Linked DNA regions of Homo sapiens. The protein of the gene in region 1 purifies or fractionates together with the protein of each later gene. This does not show direct contact. Each region holds a gene or a part of one and is shown in the gene's direction. Other genes may lie near its edges.

Evidence for each region.
Region 2: the proteins of CD200R1 (region 1) and PRMT9 purify together in Homo sapiens (co-immunoprecipitation; one large-scale study listed by IntAct). This does not show direct contact.
Region 3: the proteins of CD200R1 (region 1) and UNC13D purify together in Homo sapiens (co-immunoprecipitation; one large-scale study listed by IntAct). This does not show direct contact.
Region 4: the proteins of CD200R1 (region 1) and SEZ6L2 purify together in Homo sapiens (affinity purification with mass spectrometry; one large-scale study listed by BioGRID and IntAct). This does not show direct contact.
Region 5: the proteins of CD200R1 (region 1) and PCDH1 purify together in Homo sapiens (affinity purification with mass spectrometry; one large-scale study listed by BioGRID and IntAct). This does not show direct contact.
Region 6: the proteins of CD200R1 (region 1) and POMT2 purify together in Homo sapiens (affinity purification with mass spectrometry, with the first as the bait; one large-scale study listed by BioGRID). This does not show direct contact.
Region 7: the proteins of CD200R1 (region 1) and MORC2 purify together in Homo sapiens (co-immunoprecipitation; one large-scale study listed by IntAct). This does not show direct contact.

What each region holds. Positions count from the first base shown.
Region 1 is NC_000003.12:112,923,104-112,926,603, reverse strand, and holds part of CD200R1 (cell surface glycoprotein CD200 receptor 1 isoform a precursor), read left to right. Parts: intron 1-1,410; coding exon 1,411-1,519; intron 1,520-2,068; coding exon 2,069-2,114; intron 2,115-2,804; coding exon 2,805-2,927; 3' UTR 2,928-3,500. UniProt on the Homo sapiens protein: Inhibitory receptor for the CD200/OX2 cell surface glycoprotein. Limits inflammation by inhibiting the expression of pro-inflammatory molecules including TNF-alpha, interferons, and inducible nitric oxide synthase (iNOS) in response to selected stimuli.
Region 2 is NC_000004.12:147,677,664-147,681,163, reverse strand, and holds part of PRMT9 (protein arginine N-methyltransferase 9), read left to right. Parts: intron 1-692; coding exon 693-841; intron 842-3,408; exon of another isoform or gene 3,409-3,500. UniProt on the Homo sapiens protein: Arginine methyltransferase that can both catalyze the formation of omega-N monomethylarginine (MMA) and symmetrical dimethylarginine (sDMA). Specifically mediates the symmetrical dimethylation of SF3B2.
Region 3 is NC_000017.11:75,837,905-75,841,404, reverse strand, and holds part of UNC13D (protein unc-13 homolog D), read left to right. Parts: intron 1-403; coding exon 404-448; intron 449-574; coding exon 575-643; intron 644-828; coding exon 829-898; intron 899-1,075; coding exon 1,076-1,180; intron 1,181-1,294; coding exon 1,295-1,387; intron 1,388-1,462; coding exon 1,463-1,566; intron 1,567-3,500. UniProt on the Homo sapiens protein: Plays a role in cytotoxic granule exocytosis in lymphocytes. Required for both granule maturation and granule docking and priming at the immunologic synapse.
Region 4 is NC_000016.10:29,889,551-29,893,050, reverse strand, and holds part of SEZ6L2 (seizure 6-like protein 2 isoform 5 precursor), read left to right. Parts: intron 1-3,500. UniProt on the Homo sapiens protein: May contribute to specialized endoplasmic reticulum functions in neurons.
Region 5 is NC_000005.10:141,875,611-141,879,851, reverse strand, and holds the start of PCDH1 (protocadherin-1 isoform 2 precursor), read left to right. Parts: upstream 1-1,441; 5' UTR 1,442-1,589; coding exon 1,590-1,629; intron 1,630-4,241. UniProt on the Homo sapiens protein: May be involved in cell-cell interaction processes and in cell adhesion.
Region 6 is NC_000014.9:77,279,384-77,282,883, reverse strand, and holds part of POMT2 (protein O-mannosyl-transferase 2), read left to right. Parts: intron 1-2,420; coding exon 2,421-2,492; intron 2,493-2,803; coding exon 2,804-2,863; intron 2,864-2,955; coding exon 2,956-3,061; coding exon of another isoform or gene 3,062-3,200; intron 3,201-3,297; coding exon of another isoform or gene 3,298-3,347; intron 3,348-3,500. UniProt on the Homo sapiens protein: Transfers mannosyl residues to the hydroxyl group of serine or threonine residues. Coexpression of both POMT1 and POMT2 is necessary for enzyme activity, expression of either POMT1 or POMT2 alone is insufficient.
Region 7 is NC_000022.11:30,934,275-30,937,774, reverse strand, and holds part of MORC2 (ATPase MORC2), read left to right. Parts: intron 1-63; coding exon 64-192; intron 193-737; coding exon 738-843; intron 844-1,131; coding exon 1,132-1,264; intron 1,265-2,452; coding exon 2,453-2,527; intron 2,528-2,613; coding exon 2,614-2,994; intron 2,995-3,500. UniProt on the Homo sapiens protein: Essential for epigenetic silencing by the HUSH (human silencing hub) complex. Recruited by HUSH to target site in heterochromatin, the ATPase activity and homodimerization are critical for HUSH-mediated silencing.

The sequences.
Region 1 (3,500 bases):
CCTTTCATATTACTATATGATGTCAGATTTATAGTGTCTCAGAATTGAAGGGAAATTCTCATTCAAATTCCTATGTACAGCAGGGATCTCCTTGATGTCTTCCTTGCACGGTGGATCTTCAGCTTCTGCTAGTACAAATTTAATGAGAGAGAGCTTAGTAGTTTGAAAGCAAGGGTTTTAAAAAATGTTGTTTTAAACAATGTAACCAAACATTTAATTTTCATATAACATATGGAGAAATTCAGTATTTAAAAACATCAACTGTGGAAGAAAGGTGGAAGGACCAGAGGCCAGCCTGCTCAGTCTCCACTTCATCTCCTCTGCTGCCCCTGAGCTATATTCATGCAACACCAGGAGCATAGTTTGCAAATCGTTGCCTCTCAGGCTGGCAATTCCTTGGTTGATTTGCACGCTTGTCAGATAGAGTTTTGTATTGCTGCCAGCAGCTAATAAATAAAGTTCCTGCTGTGTATTCATTTCAGTTTCAATGCCCTGGGAGAAAGATGACTTCAGAATTAGGGTTACTTTTCCAAGTATCTTCCTTACAATTGCCCATTTAGTTGGAGGGGAGAAACACTCTGCTATAACAGAGTGGTAGGAATTCACCACCAATGAATCTTTAAAGCAACAAAACCCTGATATAAGGTGATGTCTTGCTGAAAACTCTGGAGTCTGTATTGAAAAAGCAGTTTTATTTTAATAATTCTCAAACTATTAATGGGGCAGAAGTGTTGAAAATGAAACTACAGATATGAATTTCATGTATTGTGAGACATTATTGAATGATCTATATAGATAGATATGGATATAAATATAGATAACTTTATTTTTAGTAGACATTAATTTTTAGAGCAGTTTTAGGTTCACCGCAAAATTGAGTGGAAAGTACAGAAATTTCCCATATAAGCCCTGCCTTCGCCCATGTCCAACCTCTCCCACCTACACCTGCACCAGAGTGTTACATTTATTAGAACTGTTGAACCTCCATTGATACAACATTACCACCCAAAGTCCATACTTTACATTAGAGTTCATTCTTGGTGTTGTACATTCCATGGGTTTGGACAAATGTGTAATGACATGTATCCACCAGTACAGTATTATATGGAACAGTTTTATTGTCCTACACAATCCTCCTTGCTCTTTCTATTCCTCCCTCCTTCCTCACCACCAGATAATCAATAATTTATTGACTATTCCCCTAGTTTTATCTTTTCCGTAATGTCTTACAATTGGAATCATACAATATGTAACATTTCCAGATTGGCATGTTTCACTTAGTAACATACATTTGAAATTCCTCTATGTCTTTTTATGGTTTGATAGCTCATTTCTTTTTAACATTGAATAATAAGATAGTACATTATTTGGATTGTACCACATTTGAACCATATATTTTTGTGTCTATAGTTCCAGGTGCCAAAAAATCAGCAAAATTATATATTCCATATATCATCCTTACTATTATTATTTTGACCATCGTGGGATTCATTTGGTTGTTGAAAGTCAATGGCTGCAGGTATTGACTAATGAATGTTTTTTTCTTCTTCAGCTTTATTAGGCTAGAAAAGAGTCAGAAATATGGAACTGACCGTATTGGGTATATTAGGATGTTAACATCAAATCTCCCATAATCAAATCTTGAAGGTGTTAGATAGACTTGGACTACTTTGAATGATGAGAGAGACTTTGCTAGGTTGCTTTGGCATAGAAGCATGGAAAATTAGGCCATTTAGGGTAGGATCTTGGGAGAGAAAGTGCATGTTAATTTTCACATTTGGGTAAATAATTACAATTCCTTCATGCACCAAAGAGGAGATGTTACATGCATTCAATTGCATCAAGCTTCTATTGCATAATTTCACTTTTTCAAAATCCGGAATATTCTTAGTTGGGGATATTAACCACGAGCAGTATTCTTCACTTATTTCTAGTAGTTTCTTTCTGATTTATTATGGCTTCTATCAAAATTAAACACAATTGTCAATAGTATACTGTCTTATTTTCCCATTTTCGATCTAAACAATGATGTTTCCTCCATTCACTTCAATTTATTTTATTTTTATAGAAAATATAAATTGAATAAAACAGAATCTACTCCAGTTGTTGAGGAGGTAAGATAAGATAAAAAAGACTAATTGCAAACTTAAGCCAATAGTCTGAAAATCTAGCAACATAATTTGTAGTTTGTATCAATATTAGTGTTTCAGTTGAAAAACTAAAACAGTTCTGACTTGCAGTGCTTATATGTGTGATTACTTTGTTAATTATCTATCAAATACTATTTATACATCATCACTCTGAACCACATTTTCACTTCATGAACTATATCCTAACACATATGATGTTTGGCTCCTTTAGACTGTAATCTTTTGAGGAAATGAATTGGTGTTTCTTGTCACCAATTTGAAAGCATCTCTAATTCCTGACTTTTCCTTTTCAATACTATCATTATTTTTCTCTTACACAAACTTAAAACATATCCTGCTCCTTCATCTCTTATTATAAGTAGCTTACTAAGTCTCCAAAGCTCTCCTTTGGAGTACTCATATCACTTCATTCATCTCCATTCCTACTTGCACAGAGCCATTATCTCCACACAGAGACTTATGTAGTTAACAAATACTTTTTGATAAAATGTTAGAACAAATCCTGCTCTTATGTTTATATAGGCCCAGAAACACAATTATAAGCACTCTTGAGCACCTGTTAGAAATACTAAAGCTATGGGCAACTGTTACAAAAATACAGATAGTCTCTATGATGATTTTTTGAATTGATTTTAACTTTGAGTTCTTTCTTAGGATGAAATGCAGCCCTATGCCAGCTACACAGAGAAGAACAATCCTCTCTATGATACTACAAACAAGGTGAAGGCATCTGAGGCATTACAAAGTGAAGTTGACACAGACCTCCATACTTTATAAGTTGTTGGACTCTAGTACCAAGAAACAACAACAAACGAGATACATTATAATTACTGTCTGATTTTCTTACAGTTCTAGAATGAAGACTTATATTGAAATTAGGTTTTCCAAGGTTCTTAGAAGACATTTTAATGGATTCTCATTCATACCCTTGTATAATTGGAATTTTTGATTCTTAGCTGCTACCAGCTAGTTCTCTGAAGAACTGATGTTATTACAAAGAAAATACATGCCCATGACCAAATATTCAAATTGTGCAGGACAGTAAATAATGAAAACCAAATTTCCTCAAGAAATAACTGAAGAAGGAGCAAGTGTGAACAGTTTCTTGTGTATCCTTTCAGAATATTTTAATGTACATATGACATGTGTATATGCCTATGGTATATGTGTCAATTTATGTGTCCCCTTACATATACATGCACATATCTTTGTCAAGGCACCAGTGGGAACAATACACTGCATTACTGTTCTATACATATGAAAACCTAATAATATAAGTCTTAGAGATCATTTTATATCATGACAAGTAGAGCTACCTCATTCTTTTTAATGGTTATATAAAATTCCATT
Region 2 (3,500 bases), on another chromosome or scaffold:
GTGACTTTGTGGTTTGAGGTTGAGTGGTGTCTTAATCTTATAGCCTGTGTCAGAGGAGTATGATGAGTTCAGTGTAGAACATTTTGAACTTTTCCAAAATTAAATTTCTCTCTATAGGGCCTCTGTGAGGATAAGAACAAGATTTATGTTGCTTCAGTTCTTTGCACAAGGATTGTTCAGGAAATATTTGAGTTGGACTACATTTGCAATGGCTGGAGATCCATTGCCGGGTTGAAATGACTAATAGGAAGCTGTATCTATGAGTCTGAGGTTCAGAAGAGAAGGTCTTGACTAGAGATGTAAATGTAGCATCCATTAACACATGGGTGATAATAAATGCGTTAGGGATGGATGAGTGAAAAAAGAAGAGGGCCAAGGACAAACTCCAAAAACACAGGAGCCGACAAAAGTGAGGCAGTTCTGGAGAATAAGGAGAATGTGATACAGCAGCTAAGAGTGGGGGGAGTTTAGAGAGTGGTCAGACTAATTCTGCTTATTATTGCCATGTAGGTGGTAAAATTCATTCATTTGTGCACTTGTTCAGAAAACAGTGCCTACTAAAGTTAAATGAAGTTTAAGGTGATTGTTCAATAGTGATTAAGTTCGATTGCTTGGAATCTTCAACTAATGATGTATATTCTTTCATCTTTTATGTTATTGACTAATTCATAATTTTTTTCTTATTTGTAAAGGAAACTTTTCAGTACACACTTTTCAGATGGGCTGAAGAGCTTGATGCTCTCAGTCGGATACAAGACTTACTTGGTTGCTATGAGCAGGCCTTGGAACTGTTTCCTGATGATGAAGTGATTTGCAATAGTATGGGGGAGCATCTCTTCAGGTTTGTAGTGATTTTAGTATTACTTGTTAAGAATTATTCTGTATTAGTCTGGATAGGGATAAATCATACTGTAATTTTAACAGGGAAAGTTTAATATGGAGAATTATTAAGGAGAATTGAAAAGAATAGCAGATATATAATAATCATAGCAGTTTTAATATTTTGTAATATACGGCATAATAGCCACTGCCCTTAGGAGTAAGACAGAATATCCAAGGAAGAGTTCCCCTCACTGGGCTGAGTGCCACCCCTTATTGGAGAGGGCACAGCTGTGATTCTTAGGATGGCAGAAAAGTCACTGTAGTGCCTTGCCAGGGAACTTCTTGTAAATTTGTTTTCTGGACCTGGGTATAGTTTTGCCTCTTGGGATGCCAGAGAAAGCCTCATGGGGAAGTATCTTATCAGAGGTACTCCATTACAAAACCATGTAGTAGGGTAAGAAGCCTTGGGGAAGCTGCTGACCCTTGGATGCTGCTAGCTGCCATGCATTTCAGGAGCTTGGTGCTAGACAAGCCCTGTGCAGGAAGCAAAACTCTTTCTTGCTACAGTGTCTCTCCAGCACTGTTTTTTTTGGGGGCAGAGTCTCACTTTGTAGCCCAGGCTGGAGTGAAGTGGCGTGATCTCAGCTCACTGCAACCTCTCCACCTTCTGGGTTCAAGTGATTCTCGTTCCTCAGCCTCCTGAGAAGCTGGCATTACAGGCGCCTGCCACCCCACCCAGGTAATTTTTGTATTTTTAGTAGAGACAGGGTTTCACCATGTTGGCCAGGCTGGTCTCGAACTCCTGACCTCAAGCGATCCACCCGCCTCAGCCTCCCAAACTGCTGGGATTACAGGTGTGAGCCACTGCGCCTGGCCTCCAGCACTTTTTTTTTTTTGAGACAGTGTGTCACTGTGTCGCTCAGGTTGGAGTGCAGTAGCACCATCATGGCTCATGGCAACCTTGACCTCCCAGGCTCTGGTGATCTCACCTCAGCAGCGCCCCCACCTGCACTCCAGTAGCTGGAATTGCAGTACATGCCACCACACCTGGCTAATTTTTTGTCTTGTTTGTAGAGACAGGATTTTGCCATGTTGTTGCCCAAGCTGGTCTGGAACTCCTGGGCTCAAGCGATCCTCTGGCCTTGGCCTCCCAAAGCACTGGGATTACAGACTTGAGCCACTGCACGCGGCCTCTCCGCACTTTTTACCAACAAAGCTTACCCTTGTGCCAACTGGTGGGAGAATATTAAAGGGCCAGATACAGTTTTCACAGAGCAGGCAAAAAAGGGTGAATTTGGCAATAAGTTGATAACTTACATGTTGGGAGTCTTGGAACCACTCCCAGATTTGCTGATTTGCTGGAAGGGCTCACAGGCCTCACCATGTAGTCCTAGTCATGGCTCTTGTGTATTACTGTGAATGGATACAAAGCAAAATTTGCAAAGGGTAAATGTGTATGGGGCAAAGTGTAAAGGAAAACCAGGTGCAAGCCTCCAAAGTTCCTTTTTCAGTGAAGTCACGCAGGATGCACTTCATTCCCACGGTGAGTTATGACAGTACACGTGAAATGTTGCCAACCAGGGAAACTCATTAGAGGCTCAGTGCCCAGGGTTTCTACTGGGAGCTGGACACTTGGGTACCCTCTGCCTGGCATATACTAAAATCCTAGATTCCCAGAAGAAAAGCAGGTCAGCTGTTGAGCATAAACCACATTGTTTGTATAATCAGTTTAGGAATACTATCAGTTAGGATAGTGAGAACCCTCCCCAAATCCAAATTCCCAGATGCCAGCCAAGGGACAGTTTTGTAATCAGGCCTTTCAAAGGATGGCAGTCAGGCCTGCTATGTTAACTCTGCATACTAGTACATGTGCGTGAAGAATTCTGTGAAAGTACAGGAAATAAAATGAATGGTTAACATTGCTTCTGAGTTTGAACGTTTCAGAGTGATGGGGACTCAGCATGGTTCTGCCAAGTTTGAAAGTGACAATTGCTCACATTCGTAGGAATTTAGTTAATCTCATTTTAAATGTTCCTTTTAGGTATTTTCATGCATTTCCTCACTAATTGCTTTCTCTTTCCCTCAAATCACATCCAGCTAAAAAAAACCTTAATGTTATGAATAATGAACTACAAAATTCCTAAGTGACCACAGAATTTCTCTTATTAAACGTATCTCGAGTTCATTAGTTCTTAACAATCAATCTGCTACCTTTGTCTCTGGTGCCCATGGGGCCCTTGCGTGGCTCACTAGACTGTGCAGGGCTAGGGCTCTGGGAATGCAGTGTATGTACTCTGTACAGTTTTAAGACATTAAATTAATAGAGCAATCAACTCAGTATTATGCTTTTTTTTTTCAGTGTGGAGAAATAATGTTTTATAAATAACTTTTAAGAAGAACATGGATCATTAACCTGACAAATGTACTCCCCTGTGATAATTAATGTAAACTCTTTATATGGTCATTCACAATAAGTTGTATGAATATTTATTACAATTTTGGATCGTATGTCTCTCCTCAGAAAAAATTTTGAGATTTGATGTGTAGAATTTTTTGTTAACAGTTGCTTATTTGAAAAAATTCTAGGTCGGGCATGGTGGCTCATGCCTATATTCCCAGCACTTTGGGAGGCCGAAGCAGGCAGATCAGTTGAGGTCAGGAGTTCGAGACCAGCCTGG
Region 3 (3,500 bases), on another chromosome or scaffold:
TTGGGAGGCCTAGGCGGGCGGATCACGAGGTCAGAAGCTCAAGACCAGTGTGGCCAACACAGTGAAACCCCGTCTCTACTAAAAATACAAAAATTAGCCAGGTGTGGTGGCGGGCACCTGTAATCCCAGCTACTTGGAAGGCTGAGGCAGGAAAATTGCTTGAACCCAGGAGGCAGAGGTTGCAGTGAGTTAGATCCTGCCACTGCACTCCTCCAGCCTGGGGGACAGAACTAGACTCCATCTCAAAAAAAAAAAAAAAAAAAAAAAAAGGGATGCGGCTGGGAGGAGGGAAGTTTGGCAGGGATAGGCTACAACTCCATGGCTCTGGGCTGTGGTCACTTACTGCTTCGTCTGGGGGCATCCACCCTCCAGGGCCCTCAACCACGCCCTTTTCTCCATACAGGGAGTTTGAGGACATCACCAATGCGAGCTTTCATCTGGACATGTGGTGAGTGACCTGGCCTGCCCCTAGGGATGGGAAGGGAAGGGATCTGGGGTGAGAGAGGCGGAACCTCCTCCTGGAAGAGGTCGTAGGCACTCTCTCTGCTTCCTTCTCAAACCTCTGTCCTGCCAGGGACCTGGACACTGTGGAGTCTGTCCGACAGAAGCTTGGGGAGCTCACGGATCTGCATGGGCTTCGCAGGTTCGTGTTGCAGGGCTCACAGGGAAGGGGTTGGGGCTCCTTTTGCCCTCCATCCCCCAACATGCACACTGGATGCTGGGGTGCAGGCTCCTTTGGGGTCCAGGTGGCTGCGGCCGGGGGTGGATTCCAGCCTAATCCCTTCCGACCCTTGCTGCGTCCCCCTTATGGGACCCTGCCTGACGCAGGATCTTTAAAGAGGCCCGGAAGGACAAAGGCCAGGACGACTTTCTGGGGAACGTGGTTCTGAGGCTGCAGGTGAGGAGGATGAGGAAAGGGGCCCAGGAGCGAGGCAGAGGGAGGGGGTTGGGAGGGGTTCTGGGGAGAGGCTCTGTGTCCTCACAAAGCTGAGCCTGGGGTCCACCTCCTGTCGCCTCCGCTGCCCCGACTCTATGAGGTTCTGACGCTCACGGGCTGGGCATCCCCGCCTGTCAGGACCTGCGCTGCCGAGAGGACCAGTGGTACCCCCTGGAACCCCGCACTGAGACCTACCCAGACCGAGGCCAGTGCCACCTCCAGTTCCAACTCATCCATAAGCGGGTAGGTCGGGTACTGGGCCAGTGGCCATGCCCAGCTCTTGCGGCGGTCTGCTGGGTTGCGGGGCTGGCTGCACCCAGTGTGAGGCCCTGTCTGCTCACAGAGGCCTCATTGCAGAGAGCCACTTCGGCCAGCCGCTCGCAGCCGAGCTACACCGTGCACCTCCACCTCCTGCAGCAGCTTGTGTCCCACGAGGTCACCCAGCACGAGGTATTGCCCTCCTGGGGCTGGGCGCAGCCGGGGCTGCCCTTCAGGTCCTGACACTCCTCCACCTGCTCCCCTCAGGCGGGAAGCACCTCCTGGGACGGGTCGCTGAGTCCCCAGGCTGCCACCGTCCTCTTTCTGCACGCCACACAGAAGGACCTATCCGACTTCCACCAGTCCATGGCGTGAGTACACAGCCCTGGGCAGAACCCCTGAGCCACCAGCCCCCCACGCCCCCTGCCCTCCTCCAAGCCGGTAGCCCAAAGTGTAATTCTCAGCAGAGTTCCCTTTGGCCCAAAATGTGTGTTTTAAGTTTTGAATCAGTTGCCAATTTTAAAAAGTCTAGAGATTCGGCTGATGCGGTGGCTCACTCCTGTAATCCCAGGACTTTGGGAGGCTGAGGCAGGAGGATCACTTGAGCCCAGGATTTCAAGGCTGCAGTGAGCTATGATCACACCAACACTCCTGCCCGGATCACAGAGTGAGACCTCATTTCCAAAAAATATTAGAAAAAGCTATCTGGAGATTTGACATACCATCCAGATCTCCAGCTTCTCATGAAACACAAGTGCTGGAACTGCAGGGTCATCATTTTGCTGCTTTTTTTTTTTTTTTTTGAAACGGAGTTTCACCCTTGTTGCCCAGGCTGGAGTGGAATGGTGCAATCTTGACTCACTGCATGCAACCTCTGCCTTCCAGGTTCAAGTGATTCTCCTGCCTCAGCCTCCCGAGTAGCTGGGATTACAGGCATGCGCCACCACGCCCAGCTAACTTTGTATTTTTAGTAGAGACGGGGTTTCTCCATGTTGGTCAAGCTGGTCTCCAACTCCCGACCTCAGGTGATCTGCCTGCCTTGGCCTCTCAAAGTGCTGAGATTATAGGCATGAGCCACTGCACCGAGCCATTTTGCTGCTTTTTTTTTTTGAGACAGAGTCTTGCTCTTTCGCCCAGGCCGGAGTGCAGTGGCACGATCTTGGCTCACTGCAGGCTCCGCCTCCTGGGTTCACGCCATTCTCCTGCCTCAGCCTCCCGAGTAGCTGGGACTACAGGCGCCAGCCACCGCGCCCGGCTAATTTTTTGTATTTTTAGTAGAGATGGGGTTTCACCGTGTTAGCCAGGATGGTCTCGATCTCCTGACCTCATGATCCGCCCGCCTTGGCCTCCCAAAGTGCTGGGATTATAGGCGCGTGCCACCGCGCCCAGCCTTTGCTGCTTTTTTGAGTGGACAGAGCGGAGCGATGTGTGTGCCTCTGCCCATCATGGCTGCCATTGGGCCCACTTCAGTTGCTTTCGTCTCCTGAGTCCTGGGCATTTGAATTTGGACCCGGTCCCTAACCCCAGCCCCGCTTCCCAATGCCATAGCCTTCAACTCAGCAAAACTACGCGCTGATAAGGACAAATCTATGTTGAGGGCAACTCACGTCAAGTCCTAGGAATGCCGGGGAGGGCACAGGGGGTCACAGCCATTCCAGTGCATGTGAGTAGGGCAGAGATGGGACATAGCCGGCCGGGCACGGTGGCTCGCGCCTGGAATCCCAGCACTTTGGGAGGCCGAGACAGGCAGATCACTTGAAGTCAGGAGTTTGAGACCAGCCTGGCCAACATGGTGAAATCCTGTCTCTACAAAATATAGAAAAATTAGTCAGGTGTGGGGGCGCATGTCTGTAATCCCAGCTACTCGGGAGGGTGAGGCACGAGAATCACTTGAACCCGGGAGGTGGAGGTTGCAGTGACCTGAGATCACACCACTGCACTCCAGCCTGGGCGACACAGCGAGGCTCTGTCTCAAAAAAAAAAAAAAAGAGATGGGACACAGCCAAGTGCTGGCCAGGGGAGGAACAGGAGCAGGATGCCGACTCAGGCCTGGGCTGTGACTTGGAGTCTGAGTGGGAGGCGGAGGGAGCCCAGGGGAGTGCATTTCTGGGCTGGGGTCAGCTTGTGTACTGCTAGGACCTCAGGCAGGTGGGTGATTCGGAGACAAGGGTGGAATGGTGGTGCGGCTGGAGACTGGAGCAGGCACCAGATGGGGAGGGACCTGGTTTGCCTGCAGGGCCCAAGCACAGTAATGCAGGTGGCTGCAGTGTCCAATAGGGACTTCGGCCTGTCCCCAGGCTGCTCC
Region 4 (3,500 bases), on another chromosome or scaffold:
GCCTGGCCTGAAATGTTTTAAGCAGGAAAGTGAAAGCCTCAGATTTGCAATTTAAAGATCCTTCTGACTTCTGGGGGCAGGAAAGGGGGGCTGTATTCACGCACGACTGCATTTGTTAGGACCTATGACAGATGACCTGCACATGTGTGTACATCCATGCTTACCTGTGTGTGCGGGAACCTTCCCACAGTACAAGGGTGTGTTCTAGCAGACATGTGTGCATGAGGAAAGGGGCCCAGCCAGTGCCCTGTTCCAGACCCCACTGTCTTCCTATGCTTCATGGAGACAGAGAGAACTGTGTGTCGGGCCAATGCCCCCTTCACATCACCGCATGGCCTTGGCTGGTGTCACGCACTCTGCCCTCCTTGAAAGCTCTGCTGACCGCAGATGCCTTGTGTGCCTCATGCAGGGTACACCCTGAATCCTATTCTCATGTCCTCTCCAGCCTCTTTTGAGGCCTCTGCTCAGGACCTGCCTTAGGGGCTCATGTGTGCATAGCAAAGGTGCCTATTCATCGGGGGCCAGCAAGCTGGGGGACGTGTATTTGGCAGTAGGGACCTGGTTATTGGGGAGCAAGAGCATTCCTGGAGGGCCTGGGCCAAGTGCTGGATTTCAGATATTGTGAAATCTGAAGATATGGCTCCCCACTGGCTCCTTTAAGCAGCCACTTCCCCAGGGCACTGAAAATAGGACTCCTTAGGCTAAGTGGAACATTTGGGGAAGCAGGACTATTGCACAAATTGGCCTTCATTGCTCAGTCTTCCCTGCTTCGCAGCTGCACTGGGTACCTTTGGGACCAAGGCCCTGTTTCAGCCCTTCCCAACCTGCACTAGCTGGGGCCTCTGGTCCAGAGTGGCCTCATTAGTTTCTCTGAAAAGCCAAAGTCTCCTTCACCCCTCACCCCAAGTTCAGCAAACTTTCCCATTACAAAGCCCTTTCACCAACCTTAGTTTCATTTGCTTCTCACAGAAACCCTGAGAGTGGCCATTGTCAGTTCTATCTCTCAAAGGAAGGAAAAGACTCAAAGGTTATGTAGATTGCTCAACCATCTGCACGTTTATTGCAGCCAGACAACAGATCCCCGAGTCCCTGGCTCCCAGTCATTCATTAATTGAGGCTGAGGGGTGGGTGATTAACGTTTTCTCAGCAGCTTCTATGTGCCAGGTGCTTTGCGTGTTTCTTTTATTTAATTTTCAGGCCAATCTTCCCTGATAGGAATTATTATTGCCGTTAATAGGTGAGAGGCCCCTAGAGATGAAGTCACCTGCTCAAAGGCATGTAGTTAGTAAGTTCTGGAGCTAGAACTGGAACTCAGGTCTGCCTGATGACAAATCCAGTGGTCTTTGCACCGATCCATGCTGCCTCTTGGCTGCACCCATTGATCAGCCAGGCTAGCCCTTTTTTTTTTTTGAGACGGAGTCTCACTCTGCTGCCCAGGCTGGAGTGCAATGGCACAATCTCAGCTCCCTGCAACCTCCGCCCCCTTGGTTCAAGCGATTCTCCTGTCTCAGCCTCCTGAGTAGCTGGGATTATAGGCGTGTGCCACCATGCCCAGCTAATTTTTTGTATTTTTATTAGAGACAGGGTTTCACCATATTGGCCAGGCTGGTCTGGAACTCCTGACCTCATAGACTAGCCTTTTAGGACACAAAATAAATAAGGCTTGGGCCAGTGTAGACAGTGGTTAGGCCAGGTATGGTGGCTCACGCCTGTAATCCCAGCACTTTGGGAGGCCAAGGTAGGTGGATCACCTGAGGTCAGGAGTTCAAGACCAGCCTGGCCAACATAGTGAAACACTGTCTGTACTGAAAATACCAGCACAGTGGTTCACGCCTGTAATCACAGCACTTTGGGAGGCCGAGGCGGGCAGATCACGAGGTCAGGAGTTCGAGACCAGCCTGACCAACATGGTGAAACACCGTCTCTACTAAAAATACAGAAATTAGCTGGGCATGGTGGCACATGCCTGTAATCCCAGCTACTCAGGAGGCTGAGGCCGGAGAATTGCTTGAACCTGGGAGACGGAGGTTGCAGTGAGCCAAGATCGTGTCACTGCACTCCAGCCTGGGTGACAGAGCAATACTCCGTCTCAAAAAATAATAATAATAAAATAAATAATAATAAAAATACCAAAATTAGCCAGGAGTCGTGGCACACGCCTATAATCCCAGCTACTTGGGAGGCTGAGGGAGGAGAATTACTTGAACCCGGGAGGTAAAAGTTGCAATGAGCTGAGATCAAGCCACTGCACTCCAGACTGGGTGACAGAGTGAGACCCTCTCAAAAAAAAAAAAAAAAAAAAAAAAAGACAATGGTTAATGTGATGACAAAATCATGCATGCAGGACTGTGTACAGGTAAGAGAACAAGTAACTGTTGGAGAGATGTAGAGTCAGGAAGGCTTCCTGGAAGAGGTGGTACATAAGCCCCCCAGTCTGATCTCTTAAAAGATGAGAAAGTAGGGGGAGAGCACAAGCGAAAATATGGAGGTGGAAAATTAAGGAGTCACAAAACTGTGTTGTGTAGGCTATATCGGTCTTGGGAGATCAACCCTGAACCTGGAATGTGCTGGGCTGCATTTAACTATGGAAGGGGCTTGAATGTCAAACTAAAGCATTCAGACTTGATTCTGTTGGGCATGGGCAGCCATTCCCAAAGCTACCATTTATTGAAACCACTTTGTTCTAGAAGGTTGTTCTTATGTTCATCTCAGTAGACAATGGACTCCTGAGGACAAGGCCTGGGTCTTTTTCCTGACCTCAGGTGATCCGCCCGCCTCAGCCTCCCAAAGTGCCAGGATTACAGGCGTGAGCCACTGTGCCTTTAAAGACTATTTTGTCTTTAAAGATCTTAATACTCAGTGGCCTGTAAATGAATCCCCCAGTGAAAGTGAAGTCAGGAGGTCTGAAGAGATCAGGAGTTCGAGACCACCCTGGCCAACATGGTAAAATCCCATCTCTACTAAAAATACAAAAATTAGCTAGGCATGGTCGCACACACCTGTAATCCCAGCTACTTGGGAGGCTGAGGCAGGAGAACCGCTTGAACCCGGGAGACGGAGGTTGCAGTGAGCCGAGATTGCGCCAATGCACTCCAGCCTGGGCAACAGAGTGAGACTTCTCCTCAAAAACAAAAACAAAAACAAAAAGACAAAATAGTCAAATTTCCTCAACAAGTTTCATGTTTGCTTGAGGCCAGGAGTTCAAGACCAGCCTGGGCAACATACTGAGATGTCATCTCTACAAAAAATTTAAAAATTAGCGGGGCATGGTGGCACAAACCTGTAGTCCCAGCTACTTGGGAGGCTGGGTCAGGAGGATTGCTTGAGGCCAGGAGTTCAAGGTTCCAGTGAGCTATGATCACACCACTGCACTCCAGCCTGGGCAACACAGTGAGACCCTATCTCAAAAAAAAAAAAAAAAAAAAAAAAAAAAAAAGAAGTTTCAAGTGGTTCTTCTGGATGGAAGCTGAGGAGCTGAGGGTATACCACAGGGCACCTTG
Region 5 (4,241 bases), on another chromosome or scaffold:
AGCCCTGCCCCTGGGCTCCTGGGGCTGAGGGATAGAGCAGAGCCCAGGTCAGAAAAGGAGTCCAGTTAAGCAGGGCTGCTCTGGGAGAGATCTTGGACAGACTTTGCTTGCCCTCTTAGCTAACCAGAGATTCCACTTTTACCCTGAAGAGCATCCCACCGAGAGAGGCCAGAGCTGAGAAGAGAAGGAAGTAGAAGAAAGAGGAAAGGCACAGAAGAGTGGTAGGAACAGGAAAATGGGGAAGGACAGAGATGGGGAGTCAGAGGCTATGGCAAAAAGAGGCCCAACAACTGGTCATCCCATAACAAGAGCCTTTCCTCACCCAGCACTAGGCCTGGCTAGGGATAACCTTCCTCATTCTTTTGACCTAGAACACTCTGCCTGGGCCTGCAGGCGAAGAAGGCAGGAGGTCCTGTTGAACTGGGACACTTGGTAGCCTGGGTTACCAAACCGCAAGCGCAGGAGAGGGAGTTCCCAAGCTACTCAGAGACCTCTAGATGGCGCCAGAGAGCCAGAGCTGAATGGGAGAAACCGAGTATTGGAGTGTGTGAGACACTGCGTGTGACACCGTGTGTGATTTGGTGTGAGTGTGATAGGGAGCGTGTGGCACTGCGAGGGCGTGTGACACAGGCCGTGACACTGCGCGGCCTCGCGGGGCAGGGACCCGGTGACTGTATAATGTAAGTCACTGGCAAATACGTGTGGCCGCAGCACTACGCCGTGCAGAGGGCAGGTGATCAGGGGACCCTCGAATAGCCTAAGCTCAGGAGCAGCACTTCGTCTTCACGCTTGTGTATCTTCCCCATCCTCACTCTAGAGCCCCCGGGTCCCATTAGCCTCCTCCTCCCACGGTCCCCTCCATAGCCCCACCCCCACGGCTTGCTGCGGCCACCGAGGCTGACCGCTCTGCGGCTTCGGCCGGAGGGGGAGGGGTGGACTTTCCCCGAGCGCAGCGGGAAGGGAGGGCCACACAGGGCGATCGGGGATCTGGGCGGGAAGAGGGTGGATATGGAGGAGCAGGTGCCCAGGGAAGAAGGCGCTGTGGGAGACACTTCCCTTGCCTCGACTTCCCAGGGGGCAGACAGAGCTGGGGACAGGTGTTTGAGTAGGGTAAGGAGGGGAATCCAGGAGCGGTCCTAGATGGAGGCTTGGGTGGGATAAGTGTAAGGTGAAGCTCAGAGGAGGGCACGGCCTGTGTACTGGGCCTCGGGCAGTGAAGAGATGGCAGAGGGAGGGGTCCAGGCTTTGGGGAGCGGTGCTCGGGGTCCCCTCCCAGCCGGACCGGAGCGGTCCCGAGCTCCACCTCCCGGCCGGAGGGGGGGCGGGGAGGCGGGCGGGCCGGGAGGGAGGGGGGAGGGAGGGGGCGGGCCGGGCTGTGCGCTCCGCTCTCTGCTGGCTCCGCCGCCGCCGCCGCCGCCGCCGCCGCCGCCGCCGCCGCCTCACACACTCGGGGAGCGGGAGCGCGGCGCGGACGCAAAGCCGCCGGGCTGCTGCGCCCAGAGCCAGCCGGAGCCGGAGCCGGAGCCCGAACTGCAGCTCCAGCCCCAGCCGTGCGGAGCCGCAGCCCAGGCCGGGGCCGGCGGCGGCTCATGGACAGCGGGGCGGGCGGCCGGCGCTGCCCGGAGGCGGGTAAGGATCCGGCGGCGGTGGAGGCAGCAGCGGCTTGGGGCCCGAAGCGGTCATGGCCGGCGGGAGCTGAGGGAGGGGCGCTCGGCGGAGCGAGGCCGCGGGGGCCCAACACGAGCTCGGCGCGAGGGGGCTGAGGTGGGGGCTGCTGGGAGCCCATAGCAGGGGATGCGGCTGAGGGATTCCGTCCTCCCAGGTCCGCGGCGAGAAGCCGAGGGAGGGGAGGGGGTGCTGAGCAGAACCCTAGTCCCCGCGTCCCAAACCTGGGCGCGCTCGGAGAGACGGGGATAAGGAGACTCCAGGAGCGCGCGGCGTGGAGGATGGGTTTGGGGAAGCGCGCGGCCCCCAGTTTGGTGGGGGTCTCCCGGAGGACGGAGCAAGCAAGGACCGTTGTCCACAACACATACATACACACTTGTTGGGCAACTACCTCGGCTCACTCAGCCGCTTCCAGCTTCTCGCGGGCACCCAGAGGGCCAGACCGTGGACATATATACACACATACATACATCCCTGCATATGTGCACACAGACATACCTCCCGCACACCAGCGCCCACTGGGGCACCGTCGCCAGCTCAGAATCCGCTTCAGTGTCTGCACGATCAGCAGCACCGACACACAACCCGTGGCTTTACAGAGCAATAACACAACCGGGTGTGACACCCCGCGACGTGGACACACAAACACAATCTCGTGCCCTCATGTACGAGTGTCACAGCCACAGTTCACTAGATGAACCCTCAAAACCTAGCCACCCCCCACATTCCTTTAAGGAACACACCCTAGCATATATCATCTTACCCACTTCTTGGCCAGAACATAGGTACACAGCACAGGTCTCCTTGCACCCCTCTACTGCACCCACACAAACACACAACCCAGTATCTCAGCACACGCTTGATGGCACACACTCTAACACAGGAATTGGCACCTACAGCAGCGCCTCACGGTCACAAACACAGAATCCACTGCTTCACCCATCTTAACACTGGGTGTCACACACACCTTAAACCAACAGTGTCACATTACATTACACCCTGCAGCGCATACACACAAACACACACACTCCGTTCCTCTCTCTCGGAGTCCAGATTCAGGCAGGAGAAGCCGCCGGGGTCGTTCGGCGAGCCCCAAGCGCCCCGCCACGTTAATCGCGACATTATTATTGTAAATATCGGCACAGCGGGAAGGCTGGGCCGGCCTGCCGGCTTCCCAGTCGGCGCCTCCCCAACCCCCACTCCCGGGCCGAACCGGCTGGTGTTCCGGGAACAAGCTGGACCTGGCTGGCCAAGCCATCCCGCCTCCCCGGAGCTCTGGGGCCCCAGGTTCCTTTGTAGAGGGTGCTAGCCTGGGACGGTGATTGCGACCCTCTTCCAGCCATTTAGCTGAGTTTTCTGAGCCACCTGGGTCTCCAGCACACCTGGGTCCCACACACCTTGGTGGGTCCCGCACACCTGGGTTCGTCTCACACCTGAGCGCCCCCTCCGCCTGGTCCCCGCTGTAGGCCAGTGTGTGCGCGGGCAGGCCCTGGAGCCAGAACGGAGATCGCGGCAGGCATAGGAGCAGAATTTGTAGGCGAGGTGGTCTCGCACCCCTTCCCCCCAGCTACCCTCTGTAAGTCAGAATTCTGGCCTCAGTTTCCCCAACAGTGGTCGGCTACTATTTCTTCTGCCAGGAAAGACTGGGGGCGGCACTGAGGCCTTGGAGGATTGAGCGTAGGGCAAAAAACCCCCTCTGCTCGCCACGAGAGGGTCGGTTTTATGAGAATGTCCCCGCCTAGCCGGGTTCGCGGCTTTGTGATTCCGGCGCCGGCTCCCTCCCCGCCCCCTCCTGGCGCCCGCTGCGCCGCTCGCGCCGGCTCCGGCTTGCGGGGGACCCTAGGCCGAGGCCGGAGATGCCGGGGAGGAGGGATTCCCCGCGGTGGCCTGGGTGCGGGGGGCGCAAGGGCTCCCCCCACTAGCCGAAGCGCGTTCTCACCACGCCGCGCCCTAGCCTTGCCTTGGGTTCCTGGAGGCTGGGCGCTGCCGGGGTGGGGGTGGGGCCGCCAGAGCCCAAGAAACTGCCGCCGTCCCCCCCGCCACCCCCTAATCTCCGCAACACACACACACACTCGGCGTCCTCTGGGAGGAGTCGCTCCGCGCGCTGGGTGTGTGCTGGGAGCGCCCGCTGACCAAGGCGGTGCGGACTGGGGCTGCTTGGGTCGCTTCGTGCAGGAAGACGCCGCGAGGCTTCTAGCACCTGCTCTGGGTCAACCCTCGGGAGCTGCCAGGGAAGGGGCCGCCCAGAAAGTTTTTATGACAAGCCGGAGGTCTAGCTGTGTTTGTAGGGGGTGGGGGGCGCGGGAGTAGGTGGGTGTTACTTTATTGACGTTAAGGTCTGGGGGAATTGGAACCTGTAATTACAACTAGACTAGGGCATGGGGTGGAATCGAGGGGAGAGGCAGACTGGCCCCCAGAGGTAGCCAGAGGCAGTGTGATAGGGAGGCAAGTCTGGATTCAGTTCTGGCCGCATTTAGTTTTTACCCCTTCTCCTACCCACCTCCAATTCCCAATTCCAAAAGGGACTTCAGCTGGAAGTGGGTGTCTTGCTGGTCTGCCATCTTCTTAGCAGAGGG
Region 6 (3,500 bases), on another chromosome or scaffold:
TCACTCTACCCACAGCATTGCAGGGAGGTGTAGCACTTGTTATTTTTCCCCTGGTAAGCCATTGTCAAGTGGACTTCCCTGGAAGTGATTATGTAAGCAGTACTCAGTACATATAGTTGACTTATTTCACCAGATTAAATTTTAAAAATTCAAATTTTGTCATTTTTGCGCATTGGGAGGTGATAAGTTGACATTAAGCATCTCTGGGTCACTTCCTTTCTGACTCTCTGCTTGTAGCTGTCACTGTGGCCTGATGACATAGCTCTTTTGAACATGTGCCTGTCAGTCAGAATATCATTCTGGGCCTGGGTCAAATTTTAAGACTAAATCTACGAGTTTCATTTTGTCTTTCATTATCTAAGAAGTAGAGTCAGAGAAGAAAAGGGAAGTAATGAGAGCTTTCTTATTCAGCCAACAAAGAGTCAGGGAGGGGAGAGAGATGAAAACAGTGAGTCCAGACTATAGAAACTGCAGGGGCAGGGCTCTTCCGCTGGCTGAGTAGTGGCCCGGGACCTGGAGGAGAAGGCTGCCTTGCCTGGTGCAGTTACAGGAATGAGCCCATCCAGATTTCAGCCATAGAGAACAACTTACAAGTACATATGCCTGTGATGGTTGCAGATTTTTCTTTCCTCTTTTAGTTTAGCAACAGAGCAGGATTTCTCAGAGTTTAATGTAGTGAATAAGATTCCCTTGGCTTGGTACAGTTCTGGCTGGAGTCCTTGGGTTTGGGACCAAACTGTACAATTTGAAGGAATTGGTTTCCCTCAGCAACTGCCGCAGGGGTCCAGAATGATTCATTCCTCATTCCCAGGTCCTTCAAAGGGCCGCAGTGACGCTGGGGCCGTGCAGCTGTCCCCTTTGTGTCTGATGCCCTGGATGCACTTTTGACCTTGGAGGCACAACCTCTCCACCATGTAGAGGCCTGTAAACTATTCCCAGCCCCTTGCTGAACTGGATTCATAAGGCACTGGGTGGCAGTCCACTGAACTTTCTGGGTCTTTCTTAGGCTATACCAGTGGTTCTTAATTGAGGGTGATTTTGCCTCTCGGGACTTTTGGCCATCTGTGGAGAAATTTTTGGCTGGGAAACTGAGGGGTTGAGGGTAGGAGTGCTACGGGCATTCAGTGAGTGGAGGCCAGGAATGCTAAACACTCTGCAATGCACGGGACAGTCCTCACAGCAAAGACTCATCCAGCCCGAAATGTTGGGAGTGCTGAGGTGGAGAAGCTCCGGCCTAAGTCATGGCAGCTGACTCCCCTTCTGGGGAAATGCCTTTTCAGTCTGTCCCAGTGATAAGGCAGAACCCAGTCCTAGTGGTTAATATCCTGGATCCTGACCCTACTCCTTCCTGTTTTAGCAAAGACCTGGTTTGCCCTGTAGAGAAAGGTTAGCAGATGTTCTTGGCTGCTGGATTAGGGAGGCTGAGTCTGGGTCCTTCAAACCAAAGCATGCATTAGGGTTGATTTCTCTCCCAATAGATGAAATGTGTTCTTGGAGGGCAAAATATCTAATTTTTTATGTATAAAGCACAAGTAAGATGTACAGTATAAAGTATTAAAATGTCATGGAGTGTGTTTAGGGAGAAACTTGTCTACAAAGGCTCCTGGTAGAGGGGCAGTAGTGGAAAAAAAAGGTGGAGAAGCACTAAGCTAAAGCAACCTCTTCCAAGTCTAGGCACGCATGAGAGTTTCTGCTTTTCTGTTTGAAATTGGCCCCTGAAGGGAACAAATAAGTAAGCCTTATTATTTATTTATTTATTTATTTATTTATTTATTTATTTATTTATTTTGAGACTGAGTCTTGGTCTTTTTGCCTAGGTTGGAGTGCAATGGCATGATCTCAGCTCACTGCAACCTCCGCCTCTTGGGTTCAAGTGGTTCTCCTGCCTCAGCCTCCCAAGTGGCTGGGATTACAGGCACCCACCGCTACGCTCAGCTAATTTTTTGTATTTTTTAGTAAAGACGGGGTTTTACCATGTTGGCCAGGCTGGTCTTGAACTCCTGACCTCAGGTGATCCACCCGCCTCGGCCTCCCAAAGTGCTGGGGTTACAGGCATGAGCCACTGCACCCGGCTGTAAGCCTCATTTTATATCCCCTCTCTCCCACCATTTTCACACCTTGTCCTTAGCTTGGCAGATGGGTATATATTTTGTGCCCATTGGAACAATTTCCTCTTTCCCTTCTTTTTCCCTAGAAGGTTGGAATGGACCCCTTATGGGAGATGGAGGCTTGTCTGGGAGAAGTAAAGCAAGTGTCGTAGGTAGGCAGACAGCAGCTGCCTGATTCTTCCCTGCAAGGGAAGGGAAGGAGAGAAGGTTCTGCTCGGCGCTTGGCCCTATATCAGAAAAACCTGGGCCCCACATTTCTGTCAGCCCTCTAGATCTCTGTCTTGACTAGCTTTCTTTGCTACCTTCATGCAGGGGAACAGTGGCCTCAAACCCAAGGACAATGAGTTCACGTCCAAACCCTGGCACTGGCCTATCAACTATCAGGTAGGATCCAAGGCTGGGGCTCCTCCCAGGAAATGGAGCCAAGAACAAGAGCAGGGAGACCGGTGGAGGCGGGGGTGGGTGTACTAGGGCGGCAGGGCGAGGGGCCTCCTGGGATGGGTTGGCCAGAGGTGGGAGTATCTGTTTTCTGCCCTAATTCTGACCCTGCTTCCCAGAGAGCTCGTGTAGAATTTGCCAGCCTGAGGTTCGTGTCCAGGCTCCCTGTCTGTGGAAGGTGACCATCTTCCTCCCCCTAATGGGTGTGGCCGAGGATGGGCTGGGCCTGGGTCAGCAGGGTGGTCTCTATTCCACAGGGCCTACGCTTCTCAGGGGTCAATGACACAGATTTCCGAGTCTATCTGCTTGGCAACCCGGTGAGTGCCTAAACATTCCCGGCTCAGGCCCTGGAGCACTTGCCCGTGGAGAGCGGCTGCGTTCTCATCTGCCCATTCCCATTTCTGCACAGGTGGTTTGGTGGCTGAATCTGTTGAGCATCGCCCTCTACCTCCTCTCAGGGAGCATCATTGCTGTAGCCATGCAGAGAGGGGCACGGCTGCCAGCGGAGGTTGCAGGTCAGGTCCTCTGGGCTCTCCCTCCCCTGACCTGGCGGCAGCAGGGCACCTGCACCCCTGGGGAGGGCCGGCTGCCTGCTGATGGGCCATCCTTTGCGTTTACCACCCCACACCTTCCCTTATCCTTTGCTTTTGAAAGGTAACAACCCCCAAGTACCCAGTGCTGTGTTAAACACTTTACTTCCTCCCAACAACACTAGAGCGTTGGCTATTATGACCCCCATTTTATGGATTAGGAAACCAAGGAACCATGAGATTAAGAAACTTGCCCCAGGACATACAGCTAGTAAGTGATAGAGCTGAGGCTCAAACCCGTGCAATCTGACTCCACAGCCCTCACTTTTAGCCCCATGCTGTGTACAGAGCTGCCCATCTTTTCTGCCACCTCCTTGTTCCATGGCCCTGTCCTCTCATGGGCTAGAGAGGAGCCTCCAGGGTT
Region 7 (3,500 bases), on another chromosome or scaffold:
ACCTGAATGTAGGGAGAGAGAGAGGCTGGCTCCTAACATGATGTATCGGTGTTTGCTTTCCAGCCCAGAGGGGAATCATCAAGTTCTGGGATGAGTTTGGCTACCTCTCTGCCAACTGGAACCAGCCCCCATCCAGTGAGCTGCGTTACAAACGCCGGAGAGCTATGGAAATCCCCACCACCATCCAGTGCGGTGAGTTGGGTGGTTGGACCCCCCCGACTCATTTCCATCAGCCCACAAGCCTCTTTTCTCTATCTTCCTGCCAGCCTCCTAACTTGACTGACATTCATGGACTTACAGTCCCCTAGGGATCCAAGTCTGTTTGACGATGGCCCTGTGAGCTCAGTCTTGAGGCTTTGCTGAGTTTCACCTGTCCCTCTTGAGTGAGAAAGAAGGTCATCTGTCCTCCCAGGCCTCTCCAGCTGCAGCCAGGCCAGGCTCACTTGGTTTGGTACCACATGGTTTCTGGTGTGCGTGGATGACTGAGCCAGGATCTTGATAAAAAAGGGAGAGGGGCTGGGGGTGTTAAGAGTCCAGCATATTAAGTTTCCATCCTTCCTGGAATCAGTGTCCCTGAGAAGAATTAGTATTCTCTAAGGATAGGCAGAGTTGGAGCCCGAGTGAAGATCTTTGCCTACAAAGTCTGGGGCATCATTGTGGTGGGCCTGTGAGGAACCCGGATTACAGATAGAGTTGGTGGGCGTGGCTGATATGTGGGGTTTTTTTGCTCTCTGCAGATTTGTGTCTGAAATGGAGAACCCTCCCCTTCCAGCTGAGTTCTGTGGAAAAAGATTACCCTGACACCTGGGTTTGCTCCATGAACCCTGATCCTGAACAGGACCGGTGAGCACATTGTCTAACAAGGGGATTGTGGGTACTTTTCTCCCCTGCCCCTCACTGTGTTTCTTGAGGTCAGTGCACATACCTTACATCTCTGTCTTGCCACACCTAATAACTGCCCAAGAAATAAAAATAGATGTATGTCCTGCAGTGTATAAGATTAATTCTGTGCATTGGGAACTCTGAGGTGGTTGCTCTTGTGACAGACAGTGTAGACTGGCTGAAGAGAAAGGTCCTTGCCGAGCTTGGCGCTCTGTTTGCCACGACCTCTGTAGTACCTTGTCTCTACAGGTGTGAGGCTTCTGAACAAAAGCAGAAGGTTCCCCTGGGAACATTCAGAAAGGACATGAAGACGCAGGAAGAGAAGCAGAAACAACTGACAGAGAAAATTCGCCAGCAGCAGGAGAAGCTGGAGGCCCTTCAGGTACGTGGGTCATGGTCAGTGGGCAAAGCCAGCCTGTGTCAGGGCTCTGCCTGTGACAGGAACCTTCAGTAGCTTTCCTGTTCCCTCAGGCTCAGTTTTACCCTCCACTCACCCGCGTTGTTTGCCAAAGCTTTCCAACCCCAACCTCCAGGTCCACGTGTACTATTTGCCAACAGTGTTATTTTAAGAATAACACCTTGCTTATTCTTAAGAAAAAATGCTTATATACTTCAAAGTGGTCCAATTCATTTAGAATGTATAAAACTCTAGAAAATAAAAATTCTGCCTTAGAGGTAACCATCATTAACCATACATCCTTCCAACTTGTCATGAACTCATGAATACCTACACATAACACACATATATTTTTTAATAGAAATAGGGAGATAATGCCATGTATATGTTTTATATTAATACATACACATACACATAATTGTTTTGATGACTTTCTAGAAGTGAAATTAAAGGACTTAAAAGGTCCATTGTAAAATTCTATGGCTTTTTGCAACTATTTCTAAAGTACCCTCCAGAGATGTGTTAATTTCTATTATTTACCAGCAGTATATGAGAGCATTATTTTTAAATGTTGTTGCAAATTTCATAGGCAAAGATGCATGTTTTATAATTTAATTTCCTTAATATTTCTAAGATTGCATAATTTTTCATGTGTCCACTTTTATTCCTTTTAAACTGCTTATTCACTTACATTTTTATTTTTTCTATGTTTTTTTCTAGATATGTCTGTGATATCATCTGTTTATCATATTTAGTACACAACCATTTCCCTTTTTGGCTTCTGTGTCTGTGCAGATGTGCTCTCACTAACCCATGATGTTTTATATGCCTCCCTAGCTGCTAAATCCCACCTTTCCTTTCTGGCTTCATCCAGGTTTTCCCTATCCTTCGGGCCCTTTCTACCTTTTTGGGTTCCTTTTATAGGAATTTAGTCTATTGACACTTTTTGCCAGTCTCTCAGTTGCTGGATTAATCACACAGTTTCCTGTAATTTGCTGATAGTTGAGTATTTATGTATTTTGTGTCTCCCCAATGAGAACAGGAGGTTTGTAAGAGTAGGACTATGGCTCAGGTTTTCTATTTTTTTTGTCCCTGGTTCCAGACACTATCCAAAAAGTTTGCTCAAGTATACTAAAATATGCAAACAACTTCATCATGATGTTTGCCTTGCAGAAAACCACACCCATCCGCTCCCAAGCAGACCTGAAGAAATTGCCCTTGGAAGTGACCACCAGACCTTCCACTGAGGTGAAGTCCAGGGGCCTGGGAAGGGCTTTTCCTCAGGTGTCTCATGCTAGGATCAGTGTTCTCACTCTCTGTGGGCCTTTTTTTAGGAACCTGTGCGTAGACCTCAGCGTCCTCGGTCGCCCCCTTTACCTGCTGTGATCAGGAACGCCCCCAGCAGACCCCCTTCTTTGCCAACTCCTAGACCAGCCAGCCAGCCCCGAAAGGCTCCTGTCATCAGCAGTACCCCAAAGCTCCCTGCTTTGGCAGCCCGGGAGGAGGCCAGCACATCTAGGCTGCTCCAGCCACCTGAGGCACCCCGAAAGCCTGCCAACACTCTCGTCAAGACTGCATCCCGACCTGCCCCTCTGGTGCAGCAACTGTCACCATCTTTACTGCCCAACTCCAAGAGCCCTCGGGAGGTTCCTTCTCCCAAAGTCATCAAGACTCCAGTGGTGAAGAAGACAGAGTCACCCATCAAACTCTCCCCGGTGAGACGCTTGTCCTCTTTAATACCCCAGCCCAGTGTCAGTAGTGTAGGAATGGAATTGTGCAGTGTCACAGCTGTACTGGGGGAGCCTTCGGAAGATACTGAATCTAAAGCTTTGCTGCTGCCCCTGAGGACGGGAAGCCTTGATAGCTGAACGGACTTGTTGGGGCCAGACAGCACATCGGTTGCCTGTACAGCGAGCTCTTCACTGTTGCCTCCGAGTTTTGGTCTGCCACAAACTTGAGTCACCTCCACTGGCTCTCGAAGTGTGGGCTTAGGTCAGTCATCTGGTGACAGATAGCCTGAGTGGGCTGCGGCAGTGGTCGGTGGTTCTTGGGGAGGTGACAGCTAGTTGGCCAGGTAGACTAAGGTGGGAAGGGAATTGAGAAGCTTCTCCTATGATAGCTTTGAGCAAAAATCCTTATGGCGCAGGGGCCAGTGGGTTGCCTGTGTACATTCCAAGTAATGTCAGGCAGGGATTGCAGGGAGTACAGCTCCTCTTGGAAC